Homo sapiens: one gene and its partners. The protein of the gene in region 2 purifies or fractionates together with the protein of the main gene of each other region. This does not show direct contact. Each region holds a gene or a part of one and is shown on either strand. Other genes may lie near its edges.

Region 1 (8,009 bases), on a different chromosome or scaffold from region 2:
ATCTTCCTGTTTTTTCAGCACCAAATGTATGTTCCATGATTGTAGATATACTCAGCAGCCTCAAGGCTATTGTAAAGCAGGGCTGAGCTTGCCTTACAATGTTAATTGCACCAAAAAAACAACTTCTCTGCTGAAAGTTAAGCAGGTGAAGCTCTGGGCAAGGATACAGCTGGATGACGAAATTCAGGGCATTGCTGAGCTGCTTTTCAGGTGCCCAATCTTTAACCTTCTTGATATTGAATTGGCTAAATCAAAATAAGTGCCCAAGACTGCCCTTTCCCTAAGTTGAAAGTCATCTCACCAAGGAACTGCAGTGTGACATTTTGATTTGTTGAGCCTTTGTTGATTCTTAGATTGTCTATGTAAATAACCACTTTGACCTTGACTCCTTACTGTTTTTCTTATAGCATATGAAGGAACTGAGAATACTAGTATTGAAATAGCTGCCTTTGGCTGTGGAACTGGTGACTGTTGCATTTGTTTTTTAACTTTCATGTATAAACATTTATTTTAAGTCACATTTCCATAGATGGTTTTCCTTACTTCATTCACATATCATCAGTTTTCTTAGTTTTGTTACTCTGCTCAGCCACACAAGGGGAATAAACTTTTTACAAGAGCCAGAATTCCCAAGTGCAGTAGTTAATAAGAAGGAACATATGGTGTGCAGGTTACTCAATCACATCTTATCTTTGGCACCTGCCTCCGTCCTGTAACTTGCGATGCTCTGGGGGCCAGATCATGTTATGTGGCTATGATATATTTAATTATAGTGTCCTTTTTCATAAGTTGACATCAAGTGAACCCAGCAAGCCAAAAATCTCTATAAGAAGTAATTTGGGAAATGGGAAGGTAAGTTCCACAGGGAATGAGGTAGTACTAGCTGAAAGGGATTTCTTCCTTGTGTTCTTGAAAATGAGTGATAGGAGTGTTGGCGCACAGCAGGGAAAACAAGGCAGGAGAGGATTTATTTCAGAAATATTAAAACTTTCTGACAATAAGGCTGCAAGCCCAAGAACCTCAACTAGATTGTGCTTACATCAGTATCAGTAATGACCGTGTTCAAACAGACCCTTTATTGCTTTTGGCAAACATATCCACCTTCCACTGGCTTTGTTGCTGTCAGGAGAGAATGAGTTGAGCCATGTTAGCACTTCTTGTCCTGAATTGTTTAAGCTCTTGATTTGGTTAATTATAGAGTACTAAAATGGAATGTTTTGGATAAAGACATGGGAATGTGGTAGCAGTATGACTCCTTTTGCCTGTTACAAGAGTACTGCTCTGAAAAGTGTTCAGTAAGGCAATTGGCAGTTGGTCTGTAATAATAGTTACCAATAATTAGCCTTTTTTTTTTTTTTTTTTTTTTTGAGACAGAGTTTTACTCTTGGTGCCCAGGCTGGAGTGCAATGGTGCAATCTCAGCTCACCGCAACCTCCGCCTCCCGGGTTCAAGCGATTCCCCTGCCTCAGCTTCCTGAGTAGCTGGGATTACAGGCATGCACCACCATGCCCGGCTAATTTTCTATTTTCAGTAGAGATGAAGTTTCTCCATGTTGGTCAGGCTGCTTTCAAACTCCCGACCTCAGGTGACCTGCCTGCCTCGGCCTCCCAAAGTGCTGGGATTACAGATGTGAGCCATTAGCCTTTTATGTGCCAGGAGTTGTCATAGGGGTTCTGTAATCCTCACAACCATACTATGAGATGTAGGTGGCATTATTTCCATTTTATAGATGCAGAAATGAGATCCTGGGAGGTTAAGTGCCTTGCCCAAGGTTATACATCTAGAAAGTGTCAGAGGTAGAACTTAAATCCAGGGCTGTCCGTCTCCAAAGCCCATGTCCTTTTCATTATGCCACAGTGATTCTAACTTCTTAGATGCTGAGTTCTTGCTTTCTCCCAGAGGTCTTTTAGAATACTAAGTGAACTCTAAGGCGTGTCTGTCTGGCTAAGGCTTAGGTCATCCCAAGACCAAAGTAAGGCAGGTCTGAGTTAGAGCTTTAGGAAGAGGATGGGAGAAAATTGTACAAATGTAGAACTTGAAAGAATTGTAAATTTAGAAGAGGAGAATAAAAGCATCTTATACAGAAAAGCATTTCAAGATCAATGATGCAGCTTCACACTGGTAATTTACTGATAATCTGAGAAATTTATCCATATTTTAAAAGTTATAAATAAATTTGGAGTACCTGAGGAATATACCCTTTCTTCCTGTTCAGCTAACACTTTTTCCCTATTCTTTAAGCCTCACCATCTCTATGAGTCAATCTTTGATAAGAGCTTTTGAAAATTGCAAAGGGAAGAATATTCCTACTGTATACCAGGCATTGTACTTAGAGCTTTACATATACTGTTTTATTTAATTCTTTTTTTTTTTTTTTTTTTTTTTGAGACCAAGTCTCGCTCTGTCACCCAAGCTGGAGTGCAGTGGCGATCTCGGCTCACTGAAACCTCCGCCTCCTGGGTTCAAGCGATTCTCCTGTCTTGCCCTCCTGAGTAGCTGGGACTACAGGTGTGTGCCACCACACCCGGCTGATTTTTTTAATTTTTAGTAGAGACTGGGTTTCACCAAGTTAGCCAGGGTGGTCTCGATCTTCTGACCTCGTGATCCACCCGCCTCAGCCTCCCAAAGTGCTGGGATTACAGGCATGAGCCACCGCGCCCGGCTATTTAATTCTTTTAAGAGGCCTCGAAGATAGCTAGTGTTCTCCTTGTTTTATTGAAGAAACTGAGTGTCGAAGAGATTAAGGAATTTGTCTCAAGGTTACACGGTAATGTGATGGAACTAACAGAGCCCTAAACTGTTGCTTTTCAATTCAAATAGTACTCTGTTCGAAACTCAGGATGAACCTTCTAAATCTTTTTTTTTTTTTTTTTGAGATGGAGTCTTGCTTTGTTGCCCAGGCTGGAGTGCAGTGGTGCGGTCTTGGCTCACTGCAACTTCTGCCTCCCGGGTTCAAGTGATTCTTCTGCCTCAGCCTCCCGAGTAGCTGGGACTACAGGTGCACGCCACCACGCCTGGCTAATTTTTGTATTTTTAGTAGAGACGAGGTTTCACCATATTGTCTAGGCTGGTCGTGAACTTCTGACCTCGTGATCCACCTGCCTCAGCCTCCCAAAGTGCTGGGATTACAGGCGTCAGCCACCACGCCTGGCCCTAAATCTTAATCTGTGTTTTTTGGGTAGTTTTTTTGTTATTGCACTGACAGTTTCTTTTTATTTATTGCGTGGTTGAAGGTCTTACCGTGTGTTTTTGTGAGCATTTATTTTCTGAGAAAGCAGCCTGAGGTGGGCAGATCATGAGGTCAAGAGATCAAGACCATCCTGGCCAATGTGGTGAAACCCTGTCTCCACTAAAAATACAAAAAATTAGCTGGGCATGGTGGTGCACTCCTACAGTTCCAGCTACTCAGGAGGCTGAGGCAGGAGAATCACTTGAATGCTTGAATGCGGGAAGTGGAGGTTGCAGTGAGCCGAGATCATGCCACCGCGCTTCAGCCTGGCGACAGAATGAGACTCTGTCTCAAAAAAAAGAAAAAAAAAAGCTGCTTTAGGAGCTGAAGTTGCAGTTGTGTGTTTGATGTCTTGAGGAAGACAATTACTACTACTACTACTACTAGTACTACCTACATTCTCAGTATCCAGTTAATTGAAGAAATCGATAGTTCATTAAAAAGGGAGAGTGAGTTTATTATATCATTTCCTTGGAAGTGATTCCCTCCCCCACGAGAGAAAAAAAGTTTGTTGTAATCTTTATTCAGACCCTTTGTCAAGTTTATAAAGAATATGCAGTTTGTTTCATGGTGGTTTTTGTTTAAATAATTTAGAGAGGTACAACTGAGGCAGATGGGAAGAGAACAATCTTGGCAGTTGCCCTGATCCACTGCCCTGCTGTCATGTTTAGGTGGTAGACACAATTAGAGGAGCTGAAATTCCATTCACCCAACAAGAGGTTTAGTAAACTTGATCAGATTTCTATGGAATTTGTAGGAGCTTTTTATAGTCTGAATGACCTATGGCCTGCGATTTGGTGAGAGCAGAGCAGAAAGCGGCAGTGGATTGACGTTTCTTCTGTAACAGTTCCCAACTCTAAAATTACTTTGATTAAATTAGATGATTATTTGTATGGGTTTCAGTCTCCCTTTTCCCCAGCTGTATCGTGCAACAGTTCAGTTAGCTATTTCCCTCTTGGACGCTTGCACTAAAAGCTGGTGATTTTATTTTCTTTTTTTTTTTCAAGGGTCTATCAGTAGAAATCTATTGGTTTGGGGCACCTAGTTCTTAGCTTAGAACCTATATAAAGGAAGGGTATTTGAACTGCTGATTGAGTTTCTCTGAGTATAGGACTTTAGCCTTTCTGAATGTTGCAAACCTGAGGCTAAAACTAGCTTCATCTTCTCTGCACACACTTACATTCTACAGTGCTCCAAGGTGAAACTTCATCTATTGACTACCTTTTCTTGGAAACTCTTCTCTTGGCTTCAGTGTCACTTATAATTGCTACCATTTACTGAATACTTACTCCGTGTCAGGAATCTCTGTCTTAGTATTTAATCCTCATGACAACTTTATCAGATGTGTAGTACTATCTTTATATTATGGATAAGAAAATATAGGCTCAAAGAGAGTAATTAACTTGTCCAAGGCTTTGTCAATGAAATGCTGGCCATAGCAATATTGGGCAGCTTTGCCTCTGTGCCAACACCCGTGCTGCTCTGACCAGACTCCCACTGAAGTCTGCTTAAGCTGCTGCTAAGACCACTTTGGATCTCACAATCTAGCCTCTTTCAAGGGGAGGCCTAAACACCATGCCTCACATCCCTGTTTGTTTCAGTCACTACCCGCCATCCGCCATCCATTATCTTCCCAATACTAATTCCTTTACCACTCTCTTCATCCTTCAGCTGATTCAGTCCCTCAAACTGTTCCACCATGTTCTTTACAATATCCCCCTCCTTGATCAGCAGATTCACATGTAGTATCAGTCTCTAGCAGCAAGATCAAGTTATAAGGGCAACAGTGGCAAGTGTTAGCACTTAGTATCCAGAACTGTGATGGTGCAAACCAAGCTGCAGCATCTCCTGCTTGGCATTAGCAATCACATCTTTGCCAACCCAGTTCTGTAATTTTGAGTGTTGTTTTAGCTGTGTAGCACTTAAGTTCTTCACTGAAAAAGTGACCTCATATCCTTTCTGTAAATTCTTTTTCTGTTTAATTCAGCCAGTGTTGACTTCTGCTGCTTGTAGAACTTGGAGTGATGTACGGGTTGAACCTAACCATCTACCTTCTTAGTTGCTGGCACTCATGGAGCTGAGAGTTGCTAGAGAAAATCAGCAAATTAGACAGATCAGTGTCATTAAAAATTTATAATCATCTATTTCATATGCATAATCAGCATTACCTAGCAATGTTATACATTTCTCTAGTTCACTTTCCAGCTCACTGCGAATTATTTCTTCATATTGTCTCTTTCTCTTTTCTTTTTTACTGAGACAAGGTCTCCCTCTCTCACCCAGGCTGGAGTGCAGTGGTACAGTCACAGCTCACTGTAGCCTCAAACTCCCTGGTTCAAGCAATCCTCCTGTCTCAGCCTCCTGAGTAGCCAGAACTACAAGTGTGCTACCACGCCTGGCTATTTTTTTATTTTTTTGTAGAGACGGTATCTTGCCATGTTGCAGGTCTCCAATTCTCGGGCTCAAGTGATCCTCCTGTCTCACCCTTCCAAAGTGCTGGGATTATAGGCATTAGCCACTGTGCCTGGCCTACTGTCTCTATTTCTTTTTCTCTTTTTTTGAGATGGAATCTTGCTCTGTCCCCAGGCTGGAGTGCAGTGGCGCGATCTCCGCTCACTGCAACCTCCGCCTCCCGGGTTCAAGCGATTCTCCTGCCTCAGCCTCATGAGTAGCTGGGACTACAGGCACGCACTACCACGCCCAGCTAATTTTTGTATTGTTAGTAGAGATGGCGTTTCACCGTGTTCGCCAGAATGGCTCAATCTCCTGACCTCGTGATCCGCCCTCCTCAGCCTCCCAAAGTGCTGAGATTATGGGCATGAGCCACCGTGCCCAGCTCTTATTTCTAATCTCTCATATTTTCTTCTTTTTTAACCAGTCATAGGCTTTATGCCTCATTATAAAAATGGAAGCTGCTGAATGGGAATTCCTTCATTCTTTTACCTCCCAAGTCTACAAACCTATGTGCATCTGGGACTCATCTTTTTCTCCTTCATTCTGTCAAGACCAATCCCTTCACAGGTGCTGTAATCATTCTTTTCTCCCCCTCCCCCCTTCCTCCTCCTTTCTTTTTCTATCTTTCTTCTCTCTCTTTCTCTTTGTTTTCATTCATTTTTCTTCAAGAGATGAAGTCTCACTCTGTAGCCCAGGCAGGAGTGCAGTGGTGTGGTCATAGCTCATTGCACCCTCAACCTCCTGAGCTCAATAGAACCTCCCTTCTCAGCCTCCCGAGTAGCTGGGACTATAGGTGCATGCCACCATACCTGGCTAATTTTTTTATGACTTTCTTGTAGAGATGGGGTCTCTTTTTTCCCCCTAGATGGAGCCTTACTCTGTCACCCAGGCTGGACTGCAGTGGCACTATCTCGGCTCACTGCAACCTCCGCCTCGTGAGTTCAAGCAATTCTGCTGCCTCGGCCTCTCAAGTAGCTGGGATTACAGGCATCCGCCACTGTGCCTGGCTAATTTTTGTATTTTTAGTAGAGACGGGGTTTCACCAGGTTGGCCAGGCTGGTCTGGAACTCCTGACCTTGTGATCTGCCCACTTTGGCCTCTCAAAGTGCTGGGATTACAGGCGCGAGCCCACACCTGGCCAAGATGGGGTCTCTTGCTATGTTGCCTAGGCTGGTCTTGAACTCCCAGCTTCAAGTGATCCTTCCTCCTTGGCCTTTGAAAGTACTGGGATTATAAGCATGAGCCGCTGCACCCAGCCACATTTTAAAAACTTTTTGTAGAGATGGTGTCTCACTTTGTTGCCCAGGCTGGCCTCGAATTCCTCGCTTCAAGCAGTCCTTCTGCCTCACCCTCCCAAAGTGCTGGGATTACAGGTGTGAGCCACTGTGCTTGGCCTCTCCTGTCTTAAAGAATTTCTTCCTTTGGTTTATTTCATCTTTCTACTAGGTCTTTTCCTTCAGAATTCACACTTGCCCTATTGTCTCCCATTTTGAAAACCCTGTCCTTTGACCTGCATATTTTCTGTTGCTGTCATGTTTTTCTATTCTCTTTCACAGGCATGCTTCTTAAAGGAGTTTTCAGTACATGCTATATGTGCTTTTTTCCTCTCATGAATTCCTTAACTCACTCCTGCTATAATATTCTGTTTAACCAAAACAAAACCCTCTTGCTAAAGTTGTTGATGTCCATTAGATTGGGAAACATGGGGGTCTTTTTTTTCAGTCCTCATCTTCTTGGACCTCTTAGCAGCATTTGACATTGACTCCTTGTGAAACACTCTTTTCCCTTGGCTTCTGTGACACCGATCTTTACTAGCTTCCATCTTATTTCTCTAGCTGCTCCTTCTCATTCTTCTTCTTTTTTTTTTTTTGAGGCAGATCTCACTGTGTTGCTCAGGCTGGAGTGCAATAGTATGATCACTGTAAACTTGAACTCCTGGGCTCAAGAGAGGCTTCCACCTCTGAACCTAAAGGACTAGGATTACAGACATGTGCCACCTCATCCAGCCTCCTTCTCATTCTTCTTCTTCTTCTTTCTCTTGAGACAGGGTCTCACTGTGTCACCCAGGCTGGAGTGCAGTGGTACCATCATGGCTCACTGCAGCCTCAACTTCCCAGGCTCAAGCAATCCTCCCACCTCACCCTGTGGAGGAGCTGGGACTACAGGCACATGCCACCATGCCCAACTGATTTTTGTATTTTTTGTAGAGATGGGGTTTCGCCATATTGCCCAGGCTGGTCATGAACTCCTGGGCTCAAGTGAGCTGCTCACCTCAGCTTTCCAAAGTGAGTTTTATAATAACTTGTACATAAATAAAAGCATACTC
Region 2 (8,009 bases):
GCAACACAATCTAGTTTATTTTAGGGTACTGAGAGCCTAGCAGACTTAAAGGACAAGGTAGTAAATGTTTTATCACTCAAAAATCCATTAGAAGTTTCAAATAAATTGCTTTCTTGCTAGCTGTATTCCTTCCTACTTGAAAAGCGAATTTCTTTTCCTCCTATGATTGATTTTTTAAAATCATGCTCTTTTCCATACATCAACATAAACAGTCTTTGGATACTAAATAAACTTTCCCTAACAAGTGTCCTAGCTATGTTATTTAGATTTGATAAAATATTAGACATTTTTAAAAATACTTGTATTGACTATGAGTTTTCTGCTTGGCATGGAGGACACTGAATTTTTTCCCAATTATATGGCTACCTGTTGTATTCTTCCCCCCGTTTAAATCCCTTCTCCTTGTATATAATTAAACTTGCTATTCCTTCTTAAAAACAGCTAATACTACCACTAAAGTGCTTCCATTTTCATTGTGTCAAAACTACTTAGCAAGGATGGCAGAGGAAAATAAACTTTACTTTATATCATGGGTGAAAGTGATCATAACATTTCCTGAACCTCAAATAGTTTTGGCCACATCTTGCTTGCTGATGAGGACCTCTAATAGTCTCAGTTTGGCTTTTATGTGCTTATATTCATAATACTCATCTGCCATTGGTATCCTATCTTCCTTTTGTGGACTTCTGCAAAACAAAAATACATTTGTTAGTTCACAATGAATCAAGTCATTATTTAAACATTCTTTTATAATTCATACATGAGAAAGTATACTGTAACGGCCTCCACTTGGTTTTTGCATCATGTCTTCTTTTCCTTCCCTTTCACCTTCATTCACTCCTTCTTCCATGTGTTACTAAGTTTCTAAATAATAGTAACCTTTGAAAACTTGAATGTCATAAGTGTTTTGCAAATATGTGGTCTAGTGCTTAGACTTACAACAAAGGGGTCAGTGAAAAGATCTAAGGAGAAGCAAACAAACAAGAAACAGAACTTTCAAGGCATTCTTTGTCCAGTCATTCTTCCATTATTTGCCACACCCCTACAGCTGTACAAAATGATCAGCCCTAATACAGTTGTTAAAAATATTAACCTGAAAATACTACAGGAATTTCATTATAAAAATAACATAAACCTATGGTAACAAGAAAAGCATTTAGGGTCTGTCTTACAAACTTGAAACGTTTCCAGATTTTCTTGTAATTATAATACCTATCTCTGCTAATATATAGTAGAACCACTGAGCTGTTCCTTGATTGAAGTAATTGACAAGAGTCTAAATTGTGGTGGTTCTCTTCTGTACACTAATTCTACTAAGGCTAGACATGTAACAATGCATAGATTTTTATACATATGCAGCATACTCTTGCTGTTTACTTGGAAGAATAACTTGGTAATATCAGGAGTTAAAACCATTTGCCTTCCCACAAAAATATGTTGTCAGGAAACGTTTTCTAAAGGGAAAAATTGCGACAGGGTCTCAGAAGGCTCTTGTTTTCTTGGTTAATAAGATAGCCAATCGTTTTGAAAACATTTCCACCCACGACTTTGAAATTCAAGGGGTAGAGGACACAGATATAGTCACCACAATTACAACTGAATATAACCACAAGTATTCTCTAATGTTAGTATGGCTGAAACCAGGTAAATAGCATATATTTAATGTTTTATCTTTAGCTCCCTTCTATTTTTCCCAGTAGTGATAAAGAGATATTTCTATCTCTTACCAAATAAAAAACAAGCTAATCTATACAAATTAAGAATATAGTATCTACTTGTATTTCAACACTATTTATTGCCCTGCAATTTCTAGTACAGAACTCAGAACAGTATACAAATCCATAGACAGCATTCTTCTTAACTGTTGTCTAAATTATATAACATATATCTTTGCCTCCATTCTGTGTTATGAGTCAAACTTATCATGGCTGGATGTCTGAATACCACCTTAATTTGTATAAATAGATCTAAGTAAAGAAATTGTCTAATTATTACAGAGAAACATTAATAATCAATTATGTAATTTTCCGTAGTTTTGCATATTCCATTTTGGCTAATAAGAGTGCTTTGAGGCCGGGCACAGTGGCTCACGCCTGTAATCCCAGCACTTTGAGAGGCCGAGGCGGGCGGATCACAAGGTCAGGAGATTGAGACCATCCTGGCTAACATGGTGAAACCCTGTCTCTACTAAAAATATAAAAACTTAGCCACGCGTGGTGGCGTACGCCTGTAGTCCCAGCTACTTGGGAGGCTGAGGCAGGAGAATGGCGTGAACCCAGGAGGCGGAGCTTGCAGTGAGCCGAGATCGCGTCACTGCACTCCAGCCCAGGTGACAGAGTGAGACTCCGTCTCAAAAGAAAAAAAAAAAAAAAAAAAAAAGAGTGCTTTGACAAGAATGAAAAGTTTTGCCAAGTCTTTCCTGAAGGAGTTTCTCCATTATATAAAACATACTAAAGTGCTTAGCACACTTCCAGGCTAATAATTATTAATAATAATGTAATATCTGCATGATTCTCATGCCTCTTGTATGGCAAATATTACCAAGAACATTTATAGTGCCTTAAACATTTTAGTAATCCATTTGCATGGTTATTTTAACTTATGGATGCTTAGGCCTTCCCAATAAAATGTCTTAGATAAACAAAATTAAGGTCCATATTTCCTAGCCATTCAACTGTTTGATTTTAGTTGTAAAAGATCATCACTTGTGCATTTAGTTGAAATATATCATCACAAGGGGGCATAAAACTTCATAGACAAATACAGACTTATCTGAAGTGGGTTTAAGACTCATAGGTGCAGTGGAACACTATACATAGAACATAACTAACTTCCCTGTATGTATGACAAAAAGCACACCAAGTGACACTGCAGATCCAGTAGGCAGGACTAGTAGCACACTGGGAAGTTCTCAAACCCCTTACGATAGATTCCTGAGTTCAAATTGCTAAAAAATATAAATTTATTCAGGGAACTCAAATTTATGAAAAGAGTGTACGCACATCTTAAAGTGTCATTTCTCATATGTAATGACTGTTTAGATTTAGAATATGTGATAACATCTCCACAAATATTTCCCTGAATGAAAAATTCCCATAGAATACCTTTAATCCAAAAGAGGCAGAGATCAGGAACTTTATAGTGCAAGTCACATATTTACCCAAAGTATAATAGGAGCAGACAGTCCAGACAGACAAAGTTACTACTCCAAGGAATATTTTACAAGGAAAGTTACATGAACATTTTATAAAAGAAAAAAGTATGGAAAAGGAAAAAAATAACAAATGCTTTATATTCTAAATTTATGAGCCACATAACATTTCTCACTAGATTACTTAACATCACCAAAAAGGTAAGTTGGACTTGTAGCAATCAACTGGAAAGGAAGATTGTAAGTAGAAAATAAGTTGTTACATCTGTATTGGCTGAATGCAAAAAGCTTTTCACTCAATAGGTCCAGTCCTAAAGAATATCCCTGGTAGGCTAAAATGGAAAACCTGCCAGGGACTAAGAGGTAAGTAGACCACGCATGAGAGTTTCAAGGTGCTTTTGGAAAATAGTCCCTTTCCATCAGGACAACCCTCAACCTGCTGAACTGAAAAGTCAAATACAATACCTAAATGGAGAGGAATACAGAGGAGCCCATGTAGCACTGATGAGTTTAATGATGAGTTTATGAGTTGAATAATGAGTTTAATCTCATTTCATCTACTTAATAACTTGTGGCTTTGGGAAAGTTACACTCTTCATTTATTTATTTTTGTAAAGATTGATATCCCACATGACAGCTGTAGCTTCCCAAAGTATCCCAGGAGTCCAACCATTTCAGCTCATAAAATGGGAACTGAGGTTCAAGATAGCTAAGCAATTTATCTCTCTTCCAAATTAGATCAATAACCTTATCTCTTGATTATATATGTAATTTTGTTGATGATACACCAAAAATTGGAGGAAACTAATAGAGTGTATAATGAGACTTGGGTTGACACAGAAAAATAGAGGACAGATGATACAGCTAACCATTTATTTAAGAAGTAGAAAGAATGACTATGAATTTTTGATCGACTCTTGAAATAAAATAATTAGGGACAGATCCTGACTTTTAAGGAAGACATTTAAAGCAAATAAGGAATTATTATTTAATAAATTAGGGAGTAACTTGTGGAACTAAGAAACCAACAACAAAGCAGTTATGTGGGCTAAAAAAATCAACAGATTTTTTTAAAGGTTTAAATAAATTCATTTATTTATGATGAGATTTATTGTGCAAAGTTAGAGATTTTTGGAGTTTATCCTTTATTTTTTACAGATTGATGTCATACCTGACAGCTACCATGTCCCATGAAACATCCCTAATACTGGCACTATTAGAATGTTGCATTGGACAAATCCTGAGTCTAAGCCAGTGTGGAAATTATATACATTTTGTAAAAAGTCACCGTTCCTGCAAAAAATTGCAGCTCATTTTTAACAGCAATTCTCTAGGAAGTATTAGCTTTAAAAATCTCTCTGCCGACACATACCTTCCTGTTTGTTTAAAAAACTGTTCTTCAAATTCTCTTAAGGCTTTCCGCAGTCTCTTCTTGTCAGCCCTAGTTTCTCGGAGATGGTCAAGAAGTACAGGCCTATATAAGGTAAAATACTTGTCATTACTGGGCACTGGCATAATTGAGAGATCATCATGAGCAGATTTATCTGTTCAGCCAAAAAAGCATCTATGATTGAAAAGTGTTCCCATCATAAGAGTATCTTTTGAGTAAATATGACACACATAGAGCCTGACCATAGGCAAGCACATAAGCAGGGAAAATTACCTGATGGAAAAAATATCACAGGATAGGGGAAAGGACAGACAAGAGGCAAGGAGATTGATTGAATCCACTGAAGGAACTGGAAAGGGTAACAGCAATATAGGTGGATGAGGGAAGGGATATTTTGAAGGAATACTCATCAGCATTTGGTCATAGACTGAACATAAGAGATACAGAGGAGCAGCTTTTAAAGAAAATTCTATTCTTAATCTAGAGAAATAAGTGTGGGAATATTGGGAGAATAGCAAAACCCTTGTGAATGAAAATAAGACCCAGAAGAAAGCGATAGTTACATTGCAAATTCTACTCACTTCATTCTACCAAGATGAGAGAAAAGTCATATACTCTAGAGCAGGAATCTGGTATATACACAAGCATACCCAAACTCATGTATGGTTTCAGAGATTCTGTGAACTTGAAATTATACATGGGCATTTTCTTAAAATGATTCTATTGGTTTCAAAGAAGTCCCAACACCCCTTGAAAAGTTAGGAATAACTGCTTTAGAACCACCACCAAAAAAATGATTTTCTACTTGCTTTCTCTGACAGACACTTCTGTCAACTTAAATTAAATTAAATTAAATCTCATAATCTGGGCTGTAAGATACAAACCAAAGAAGGCCAAATTATCATGAGGAATGCCAGCTACTGAATAATGATAATAATAATGATAATGATAATATTAATGAAAATCCAAATGGCTTATATCTGAAGGGCTATTTAAGAGACAAAGGGCAAGTCATTTGCTTACTACCAAGTGGATTTCTAGTGGAAAAACTATCTCATCTAAATGTAAGAGACTAGGATAAAGGCCCTGAGAACTGTTGACCCACCCCTTTGAGTCCAGCATTTTCAAAGGCCAGCTCTACTTCATATACTGGTATCAGACCAGAAGGAGTTAAGAGGAGACTCCACACTTAGGATTCATACTCACATGGTAGCCTCATGTAAATTAGACATGGAGAGAGCTGGTGGTTTTACTTCTTTCTTTTCATCTGGTAAAAGGGCCCTAACAGGCTCAGTCTCATTAGAGTAGGTGAGGTGGTCACCAACAGGAAGGTGAGATGCTGGATCTGCCAAAGAAGGTTGTTGGCTTCCCTGTGGACGGTCTTCATCAGAGTCCTCTTCCTCCTGCTTATCACAGGCAGAGTTAAAGAAAGAAAGTCATGTAATGCTCAGTGCCTCTTGAGGAAACAAAAACAGGAAGGGGAACTATAAATCAATGCCATGAAAACCAGTAGGTGACCCATGTGCCTACTGAGAACTGGGATGGAAGAAACCAAGAGGAGCTCTTCCGCAGTTTCATTAAAAACCTACAGAAGTTAATGAGCAAAAAGGCAGCAGTCATGCTGGGCTAAAACACTCACCAAGTTCATCTGTGTCTTCTGGGCCAATGAAGGCACAGACCATTAGGATATGGTCCAGTCTGGACTATACTACCAAGTGGTTCCTCCCTTTCACTCAGACCTTCTGGGCTCCAGCTTAATACTTGTGATATGAGTTAAGATAAGGTGGACTACGGACAACTTTTATCCTCCAGAAATACCCCAAGTCAGGTCCCAGTGGGGACCAACATTCAGATACAGAGGATACTCAGTAAATTGACAAGTTCAGGGGAGAGCTATTTGAAGGCCAAAGCAAAGTGGGGTTACTCCTCAACTGTTCTGATAATTCTTATCACAACTAGAAGATTCTCTTGCAAGAAATATAAGAACCTTACTACATTTTAAATTATGCTTCCATAAAGGGAAAATTCCAAAGACTATGAATTATTATTCACTTAATGTCTTTAAAAATGTGGAAGTATAATTTGTCTCAAAAAAAGTGGAAGTATAAATGTACCCAAGCATACTTAAATTTATATTTGTTAATATTTATTCCTTTTTATATTGATATCTTGAACAAGTAACTGTTTTGATATTGATGGAGTAGGATTTGTGATGCTTTTCTAGTTCTGTATTCCCATAAATCATTCTTTATTAAAAGTAGCCTAATTCAATTTCAGTACTTATATTTTCTATTGAAATAAATCTTCTCATATCTTGTACAGTATGGTCAAATGGTACCAAAAACAAATGTTGCATTATATCAAGAATATATTGTTAATTTTCTGATTAAAGGAAAAAATTAACCAACACACAGAACAGAAAGGCTCTGTTTTGTCTAGCTGTGTTACAAATTAGAAAATGCCAAACTGAAATCTATCATTTCTTTTCACCCAAGATAATGAAAGCAAATGTTAAAATTGGCTCTAGACATACAAGTGCTATATGTTCCTATTTTACAATAGTTCTAATATCAGCCACTGTTAAATATAGTAATGGGGTTAGAGAAGACCAAATTTTCACTTTTTGAAATGACAACTAGCCTTGTTTGCAGTATATACTGCCATGAAGGGTCTTTTATAACTCTTGTACTACTATGTGACATCCTGTTAACTACACATCAGTACAAAGTAACAGCATGCAAGTATCCTGACTTACAATTGTTGGAATAAGGGAAGGTGTTGACAAGATTTGCTTGATAATTCTGTATCGGTCATAAAGCGGCTTTATGAGGTTCTTGTCTTGCTTAGTTACCTGAAAAACATGAAATTAATTATTATTCCTCTCTCAGACAAGAATGAAAACGTCAACATTTTTAGCAGACAAAAAGCCTCAAAGTAAAGGATTATAATACTATAATGCAGCAGTTATCATGAAAAGGAAAGTCATTTATTTATTTATTTATTTATTTATTTATTTATTTATTTATTTAGAGACAGAGTCTCACTCTGTCACCCAGGCGGAGTGCAATGGCATGATCTTGGCTCACTGCAACCTCCACCTCCTGGGTTCAAGCGATTCTCTTGCCTCAGCCTCCTGAGTAGCTGGGACTACAGGCACGCACCACCATGCCTGGCTAATTATTTTGTATTTTTAGTAGATACAGGGTTTCACCATGTTGGCCAGGTTGGTTTCAAACTCCTGACCTCAAGTGATCAGCCTGCCTCGGCCCCCAGTTACAGGTGTGAGCCACCGTGCCTGGCCAGAAAGTCATTTATAAGATACTGTATGTAGCACATGCCAGTTTTTTTCTTGGAAGTTTCTTAAAGGATACGTCCAAGTTTAGCAATGTGATTTTTGGAGGAGTCTGAAATGCGTAAGTGTTAAGGAACCTCTTCCTTAATTACTTCTTCATTCTTAAAAAACCAATC
Region 3 (8,009 bases), on a different chromosome or scaffold from region 2:
AGGGCGCGCTCCCGCAGCAGGCGGTCCCGCACGGGCCTCTTGGTGATGTAGCGCGTCCCGTCGCTGCGGATCTTCACCTTCCACTCCATGCGCGGCTCCGACGGGGTGGGAGAGCTCAGGTCCTTGCACATGCTCACCAGGCTCATCTGGCTTTGCGCGTACTCCACGGCCGACTTCTGCTGGATCAGCTGCATGTAGCTCTGGTAGTGCTGGGCGTGCGCCGGGATGTGCGCGTGCTTGTATGGGGAGTGGTGATAGGAGGGCAGGTAGGCGCTGCCCAGCTTCTGGCTGGGCGTGGGGCTCCGGCTCCCGTCGCTGGCTCTCCGCTCTTTGCTTTCCAGGGGCTGGTTGGGGTCCAGCTCCTTCAGGGACGGGCTATAGGTAGGGGTGCCCACTTCGGGATCTTCCGTGATGGAGAGCAGATTCTTGGAGGCTGGCCCGTAGGCTTCCGTGGTCCCCACAGCCCCTTCGCTGCTCGGGCAGCTGATGCCCTCCGCCGCTCTCCTCAAGGAGTTGTCGGGGGAGATCTCCAGGGTGAGCGGGGTGCTGCGGCAGCTCTCGCCTGTGTTGTAGGCGCTCGAGCTGTCCTTGTCGGATTTCTCCGGGAGCTCGGTGATATCTGAGAGCTCGTGTCTGCGCACGTCGATGCTGGTGTTGTAGTTGCGGAAGCCGCTGTTGTGCAGCATCCAGGACTCGCGGTACTGCTCCTTGAGCTGCTGCATCTTGTGGGCGCGCACGATGCTCAGGCACTCCAGCTCGATGCTGCGCAGCTCTTCGTTCAGCAGCTCCAGCTCCTTGTCCACGCTCTCAGGGTCACTCTTGCCGGCGTCCAGGGGGCCGCTAGGGTAGTACAGGCCGTAAGGGGTGGCGCTCTTCACCTGGCACTTGAGCTCCAGGAGCTCGCGGAAGCGCTCGCACTCGTCCACCGGGATCCCCAGGTAGTCGGCGTCCGTGCAGTCGGCCGAAATGAAAGACTCGTTGCTGAAGGGCAGGTCGCCGCTGCCCAAGGTGTCCTGGCTGCAGGTGAGCTTCCTCTGCCCCGCCAGCGGGTTGGAGGATGCGGTGGCGTCGTCGCCATTGTTCTCTTGCTCCGAGCTCTCGTCATTACGGGTGCTCTCGTCGGTCCGCCCCACACCGCTGTCCTTCTCGTGCTGGTTGGACAAGATGGTGGCTGTATCTGTGGTCCCACCGTCTTCGTCGTGCTTCTTCTGCATAAACACAAGAACAAAGGGTCACAGTGAGGGAGGCCTGCGCAGCAGGTACTCAGGTTTGACCTTTCCTTGCGGTTTCTGGATAGGGCAGGCTGTACATTTCTAAGGCCAAGGGACAGCATCTGACAGTAGGACCACGTCAATAGCGTGGGCCTTAGCTACACCTACCCGTATCTACCTGGGCAAGTCACTTATTCTTGTTCTTGTCCTCAGTTTTGTAAAATGAGGATAATAGTCACTTTATCTCAATGAATGATTCTCAATGATTCTGTTAAATGAATCAGTACACAGGTAGAAGGATGTATAAAGGTCCTTGTTCAACTCAATAAGGACTCAATAAGTGGCTCATTAAGACTCTGACAATGGTAGTAGCATAGCAGGGAGCTAGAGAGCTCCAAGCAGCTCCTGTTAAACAGAGGGGATTGCTTTACTTTGGAAAACATGGCTTTTTGCAATCTATGGTAATGCCAACGCATATGTTTTCCAAACAAATTATCAGAAGGTCAGCTTTGCTTTGGCAATGTTGCTTAGATTTAAAAGCTTAGCTAGGGACAGTACCAGCTTGCATTTCACTGGTCTGGTGCTCAAATAGAAAAGTACTTGAGGCTGTTTTCTTGCTGCCTTCCAGGTGGATGGACTTCTGATGGTCTTTAGCACCATAAAGGGAGATGGAGGAAGCAGATTTTCCTCCAGCTCAGCAGGGCAGAGTGTCAGGGACTGGTGCGTGGGCGTTACCTGCTGCAGCACGCTAGCTGTGAATTGCATGGCCTGGTGGTGCTGCTCCTCCAGCATGTCCATGTGCAGGTCATCCAGAAAGTCGTTCCTGTCATCATCCATCCAGCCCTCATCCAGCTGCAGGCAAGAGCAGCCAACACATGCCTTAGAAGTTTCCTTTCATGTTCATTTATGTTTTTTTAAAAATGACATTACCTTGGGGGAAAATATTTCTAGGGCTTCCTCCAAGAGTCATCAAAATGCAGTCTGCCCAATGATTTGCTGTTAAGTCAGGAAACTATCCAACCCTTACATTAAACAGACCTCCAACCCTACACTACATCTGGGGAAGTCTTTAATATCCATGATTTTTTTTTTTCAGGGTGAAACTCTTTCATCCATCTCAGCTACCTTCAGTGCAGTAGGACACCTGTGTAGGAGGGTCAGGTAGATTTAGCTGGTCCACCTGCTTGCTGGACCAGACACGAGTTTAACAGGTCCCATAGAAAAATGATTTTCAGTGTGAAAAGAGTTCTTTCTGATACAGTAACTAGCTGTTTGGCTTGGGCAAGATATCACTTTTTTTTTTTTTTTTTTTGAGACAGAATCTCACTCTGTCTCCCAGGCTGGAGTGCAGTGGCACGATCTAGGTTCACTGCAACCTCTGCCTCCCGAGTAGCTGGGATTACAGGCAATGCGCCACTATGCCCAGCTAATTTTGGTATTTTTAGTAGAGATTGGGTTTCACCATGTTGGCCAGGCTGGCCTCATCCTGACCTCAAGTGAACCTCCTGCCTCAGCCTCCCAACATGCTGGGATTATAGGCGTGAGCCACTGAGCCTGGCTGGATATCACTTTTAAGAGGCCTTTATCTGCCTTGCCCAAAAAAGAGTGAACTATTCAGAAGTTGGCACTCTATAGCCCATGGGCTGAATCCAGCCTGGTATTTTTATAAATAATAATAAAAAAAGTTGAATGAGAACACAGCCATGCTCATTCGCTGACATAATTGTCTATGGCTGCTTTTGCACTAGAGTGACAGTCTAGCAGTCATGGCAGAGATGGTATGGCCACCCAAGTCAAACATTTACTATCTGGCCCTTTAAGAAAAAGTCTGTGACTGTGGGTGAGATGATTGCTGAAGTTCCCTTTGAGCTCATGAGGCTCCCATCTGTGGAGAATCAGATGCCCCGTATGCCACTGTCTGTCTCTCGGCTTTTTCAATCGGGTTTCATACTGATATGGTTTGGCTGTCCCCACCCAAATCTCACCTTGAATTGTAGCTCCCATAAGTCCTACGTGTTGTGCGAGGGACCTCGTGGGAGATAATTGAATCATGGGGGCAGTTTTCCCCATACTGTTCTCATGGTAGTGAATAAGTCTCATGAGATCTGATAGTTTTATAAGGGGAAACCCCGTTTGCTTGGTTCTCATCTCTCTTCCCTGCTGCCACGTAAGACGTGCCTTTTGCCTTCCACCATGATTGTGAGGCCTCCCCAGCCATGTGGAACTGTGAGTCCATGAAACCTCTTTTTTCTTTATAAATTACCCAGTCTCGAGTATGTCTTTATCAGCAGCATGAAAACGGACTAATACACATACCTAAAGAGATCTACTACTGGATTGCCCTAGATGTGTTGCTGGAGCCATTCTAAGTGGATCAAGAGTGCCACCTGGGTGAGTTCATGATTCCTCCTGTGGAAGGAGTTATTACAACACAGAGGTTTCTGAATCAGATTACTTGGGCCTGAACCCCTCCCTGCTTTATCACCCTCCTTCTGGGCCTTTCCTGGGTAACTTTTGAATCTCTGGGAACTTCCATCTCCTGGGAAGGCTCTCCTGTGTGTAAAGTGCTCCACGGAGGGCCTAGCACTTATTCGGTGGTCATATCAGTTTTAATTATTTATCATTCAATGTTTCTTTTAATTTGAAAGAGCAAGTTTTAATTCCCCATACTCTGCTATTGTAAATGAAACCTGCACAGATCAAGGCTGGAACATATGTCAGGCCTTGGGAAGTCAAATGTCTTGACGTGACCCCGGTTGTGTTTTCCATTCAATTCTGTTTCCTTTTCCTTCCCTATGATCCCTGCATTAATGAACGTCGTGGGCCTGCAGTATAGATGCCAGGGTGGGCATCTAACCAACCTTAAATGGCTAACTCATAAAGTGAATTCTGAATCACAGCAAGTTTGATTACATTTCCAGGGAACAAAGCACCTTCAAGTTCGCAGCCAATACTCAGGTGCTCTTTTGCAGGCCTGGGGATCTTTTGATTTTAGAAATATAGACCCAGTTTCATCTGTAGGAAGCCAATTTACCTGGAGTTCAGGCCTTGCAATCAGCAATGAAAAGTTTTTATTTTCTTCACTGGTTAGAAGAGCCACAGCCTCTTCACGGTTCTGCACCTCTATCCCATTAATCTTTTAAAAAAAAAGGGGGGGTGGGGAGAGTGGGGAGACAAATAGCATGATTAGATGGTGCAAAATCATTCTATTTTATTTCAGACCTGCATTTGTCACCCACTCACAGTTAGAACATACAACTTCCGTGTAGCTGGAAAAGAATACTGATGTTAGGAAGGAAAGGTCTTGCTCAGACCAATGCAGTTTCTCTGGTCTATAAGGGAGCCTCCATGAGTATAGTTCATGAGGTGACTGTGATGTGTGGGGTGTGAACAGAAGGGGCTGGACCTCCAGAAGACGGCACTGAGAAAAATCATAATGCTCTGCAGAGGGAACATGGAAGCAATTAGACATAATATTCAGGCAGGAGTATATGTAGACATTATTGGATAATATAGAAGAAAAAGCAGCAAACTGAGGTTAAGAAAATGGAATAGAATTATACATGGTGTTTTGTGTCCCCAGTTTGACACTTAAACTTCTTTGGGCCAGGCGGAGGGTCAAGTGGGCGTGACACTCTCACTATCACACTTGATTAACCCTCTTGCAGGATTTTTGCTTGCATGTCCTGGTGACTTTGAGCCCTGCTGGTCTGGAGGTCTTAGTCCTGGTGGAACGCCGCCTCCAGGGGACACAGCAATGGTTCCACTGAATTGGAAGTGGAGGCTTCCATATGCCTCCTTACACTAGTGAGCCAACAGGCAGCAAAAGGGGTGACTCTATTGGTTGGAGTGATTGCCCTCAATTACCAAGGAAGATGGGCTTGCTGTGACACAGTGGAGGCAGGGAGGATTGTGTCTGGAACCTAGGGGATTCCTTGGAGTACCTCTGAGTGCTTCCATTCTCAGTAGTAAAGGTTAATGGAAAACTCCAGCAATCAAAAAAAAAAAAAAAAAAAAAAAAAAGAGGCAGTATGCTGAGGACCCTGACCCTTCAGGTGTGAAGGTTTGGGTCACTTCCCTAGGGCAAGCGATCCTGAGCAGCACAGGTTCTGGCTGAAGGCTAGAGAAACCCAGAGTAGGCAGTGGAAGAAGAAAATCAAAATGACCTGTGGTGAGGTATGCAATGAGAAAAACACAGTGGATTAAGAATGAGAGGATACGGATGAGAAGAGGTAGAAAGCTAAGCCTTGTGGACACAATGAAGCCAAGAATTTCAATTCTGTGAGATTAAAGAAGGTTGTAGCCAAAAGAGACATGAATGGTCTCATTTGGACTAGACGGAGCAACAGGGCTCGAGGTCAAGTAATGACCCTTAGAAGCGATTCCAGGATGGTTAGATGTTGAGTCAGAAAATTTCTAAGACTTTTCAATCGATGCTGCTAAATTTGCCAAAAATGTTCCCCTTTTATGGACGAGCCTCTGAAATGCTTGGTCCAAAGTTAATCTTTCAGAGAAATCTAAAACGAGAATTATTTTAGTTCACAAGTTGTAAACTGTTGGCCTGACTTTGGCTCACTGATGTTTGTTTTGATCCAAACAGAATGAAACAAAATAAGGAGAACTGGCTCAAATTTTGCAAGGCCCTCTTTGGAGAGAACATGCCCCATCTAGTTTGTCCCAGTCCTCACCACTCCCTCTTGCGTCTTATGACTCAGAGATAGCCTCACAATTAGTTTAACTTGTCTGGCCTCACTACACATCTGCGTTTGTGATCCCTGTTCTTTAACCGCTTCTGCATTTTCAACCCTAGACCTATCATTAGAACCAGTTTGTTCTTTAGTGATAGGCCCATCATGAGGCCATTGTTTGGAAGTGGACTTACCTGGATAATGCGGTCTCCTTCTCGGATGCGCCCATCCTTGGCTGCAATGCTGTTAGGGTCAATCTGAAACACACATGGACCATCTCAGCGCAAACGCAGACATGCATGAAAATAAGCAACAGCACTTTCAAAACCATTTCTAAAACACAGTCATGCTCACCCCTGTGTTTCTGTTTTGCACAGAAATAAACAAGACTTAGTGTCGTGCAAGGAGAGGCAAACATGAGCTGATCTGCTTCTAAGCCCTTTCTAGGGCTGGTTCTTGGATCCCTGTGTAGCAACCCTGTTACACAGCAGTGTGTGCAGGCTCTGCTGATCTGAGGAGGCACAGCTGACTTTTGTTGCATGCATGGTAATTAAAATCAAATCAATGATGTAGAACAGGTTAAAGGATACCCTTCATTATGTGGACTAGCAACTATACCTTATTTTATACCAAATACTTGTATTAAAATTTGGAAAATAACTTTAAAATTGAAATATAATTGGGACAAGGGGGACTGGTAAGGGGAGGGATGTCCCCAAATGCAGAAAGGATGGGTTAACTTAAGCTTGGTGAATGACATACAACCAAAGAGATAATTATTAAGTCTAGTAGATCATTCTGTAGCGACAAATTTTATTTCCTGACAAAATTGGGTTTCTGTGTTTGCAAGGATGGGTGTGCACTGTAAAGTTTCCATACTGAAATCAGTTGATTTGTATTATCTTCTCAAGGAAGATCAAAACAGCGTGCATCTATGTAGTTTGATAAGTACATACAAGTCACATTTAACTTATATGAAGTCAACTATATATACTCCACCAAGAGAAAAAAAAATGTGTGTGTGTGTGTGTGTGAGAGAGAGAGAGAGAGAGGCTTTAAAAAGTGTAAGTGATTCCATCCACCATTCCACTCAATGAACACGAGTTGGGAAATGTGAATCTGCTCTTCCCTTGGGGCTAAACACACAAAACCATGTAAACGGCTCCATTTTATGGCTGATTTGCAGGCTTCTCAAGGGTAATTTTGCCATAAGTACTGGCATTAGAACTTAACCTCCGTGGAAAGATGCAGCGCCATGGAGTGTGATGAGGGGGACAGAATAATTTGTGTCTTTCCAAAGAGATCTTGATGAGGTGGGTTAGGGTTGGTGAACATGAAAAAAAAAACCCTTTTGGTCTTGATACGATAGTTAGAAAAACAAAATCAGCCTTTGTACCTCACTGATATAAATCCCAATGTCGTCTTCATCGTCCGTCCGGTAGCACACAGTGAGGCCCAGCTTGTCCTGGCTGTTCATTCTGTAGAGGTCCACTTCCTAGACAAAGAAAGGCATTCCCAGTGAGACTCCAGCAGGCAATGCGAGTTGAGGGGATGTCAAATGCTTTAAAAATATTATCTTCAAATGAGGAACTGGATTTCTTTGCATTCAACTGTGTAGGGCCGGTTAACTTACTAAACAAAAAGTGATTATGGACACAGGATCAATGCCTACGGCATTTCTGACCTTTCACTCAATATAAAGTCATTTTGAAAATAGTTATTTCATTGATCCCCCAAAGAAAAATTACCCATATTTCACTCAGCGTCAAGACTTCTGGGGCAGGGCTTTTCAAAAACACTTTTTCAATGTCTGCCACAAACAAGAATATTTCCATACCCCAAACCACCCAGCCATTTCAGTACAAATGTTTCCAATGTGTTTGGTTAGATTATTTCACATTGCGTTCCCTTAATATTCACAGTCATAGAACTTGCAAACAGATTACACATAAATTGATCCAAGAAAGGAGGGTAATGTGATAGCGTGCAATTAATGTTCTCCACAACAGCTGTGATATTTACAGTTGAGAAATTAGTTTCAGCCGCTATTACTGCAAATTAAATAAGAGAAAAGCAAAGTGAGCCCAAATGTGGGATACATGCTATTGTA

Evidence for each region.
Region 1: the proteins of FAM13C (region 2) and AHCYL2 purify together in Homo sapiens (affinity purification with mass spectrometry; 3 studies listed by BioGRID and IntAct, with this or other methods). This does not show direct contact.
Region 3: the proteins of FAM13C (region 2) and PDZRN3 purify together in Homo sapiens (affinity purification with mass spectrometry; 2 studies listed by BioGRID and IntAct, with this or other methods). This does not show direct contact.

Annotation. Positions count from the first base shown.
Region 1 is NC_000007.14:129,227,718-129,235,726, forward strand, and holds part of AHCYL2 (adenosylhomocysteinase 3), read left to right. Parts: intron 1-8,009. UniProt on the Homo sapiens protein: May regulate the electrogenic sodium/bicarbonate cotransporter SLC4A4 activity and Mg(2+)-sensitivity. On the contrary of its homolog AHCYL1, does not regulate ITPR1 sensitivity to inositol 1,4,5-trisphosphate.
Region 2 is NC_000010.11:59,247,052-59,255,060, forward strand, and holds part of FAM13C (protein FAM13C), read right to left. Parts: intron 7,393-8,009; coding exon 7,297-7,392; intron 5,948-7,296; coding exon 5,748-5,947; intron 4,626-5,747; coding exon 4,524-4,625; coding exon of another isoform or gene 4,436-4,523; exon of another isoform or gene 4,118-4,435; intron 720-4,117; exon of another isoform or gene 687-719; coding exon 563-686; 3' UTR 1-562.
Region 3 is NC_000003.12:73,383,723-73,391,731, forward strand, and holds part of PDZRN3 (E3 ubiquitin-protein ligase PDZRN3), read right to left. Parts: intron 7,395-8,009; coding exon 7,296-7,394; intron 6,157-7,295; coding exon 6,094-6,156; intron 4,348-6,093; coding exon 4,246-4,347; intron 2,064-4,245; coding exon 1,947-2,063; intron 1,209-1,946; coding exon 1-1,208. UniProt on the Homo sapiens protein: E3 ubiquitin-protein ligase. Plays an important role in regulating the surface level of MUSK on myotubes. Mediates the ubiquitination of MUSK, promoting its endocytosis and lysosomal degradation. Might contribute to terminal myogenic differentiation.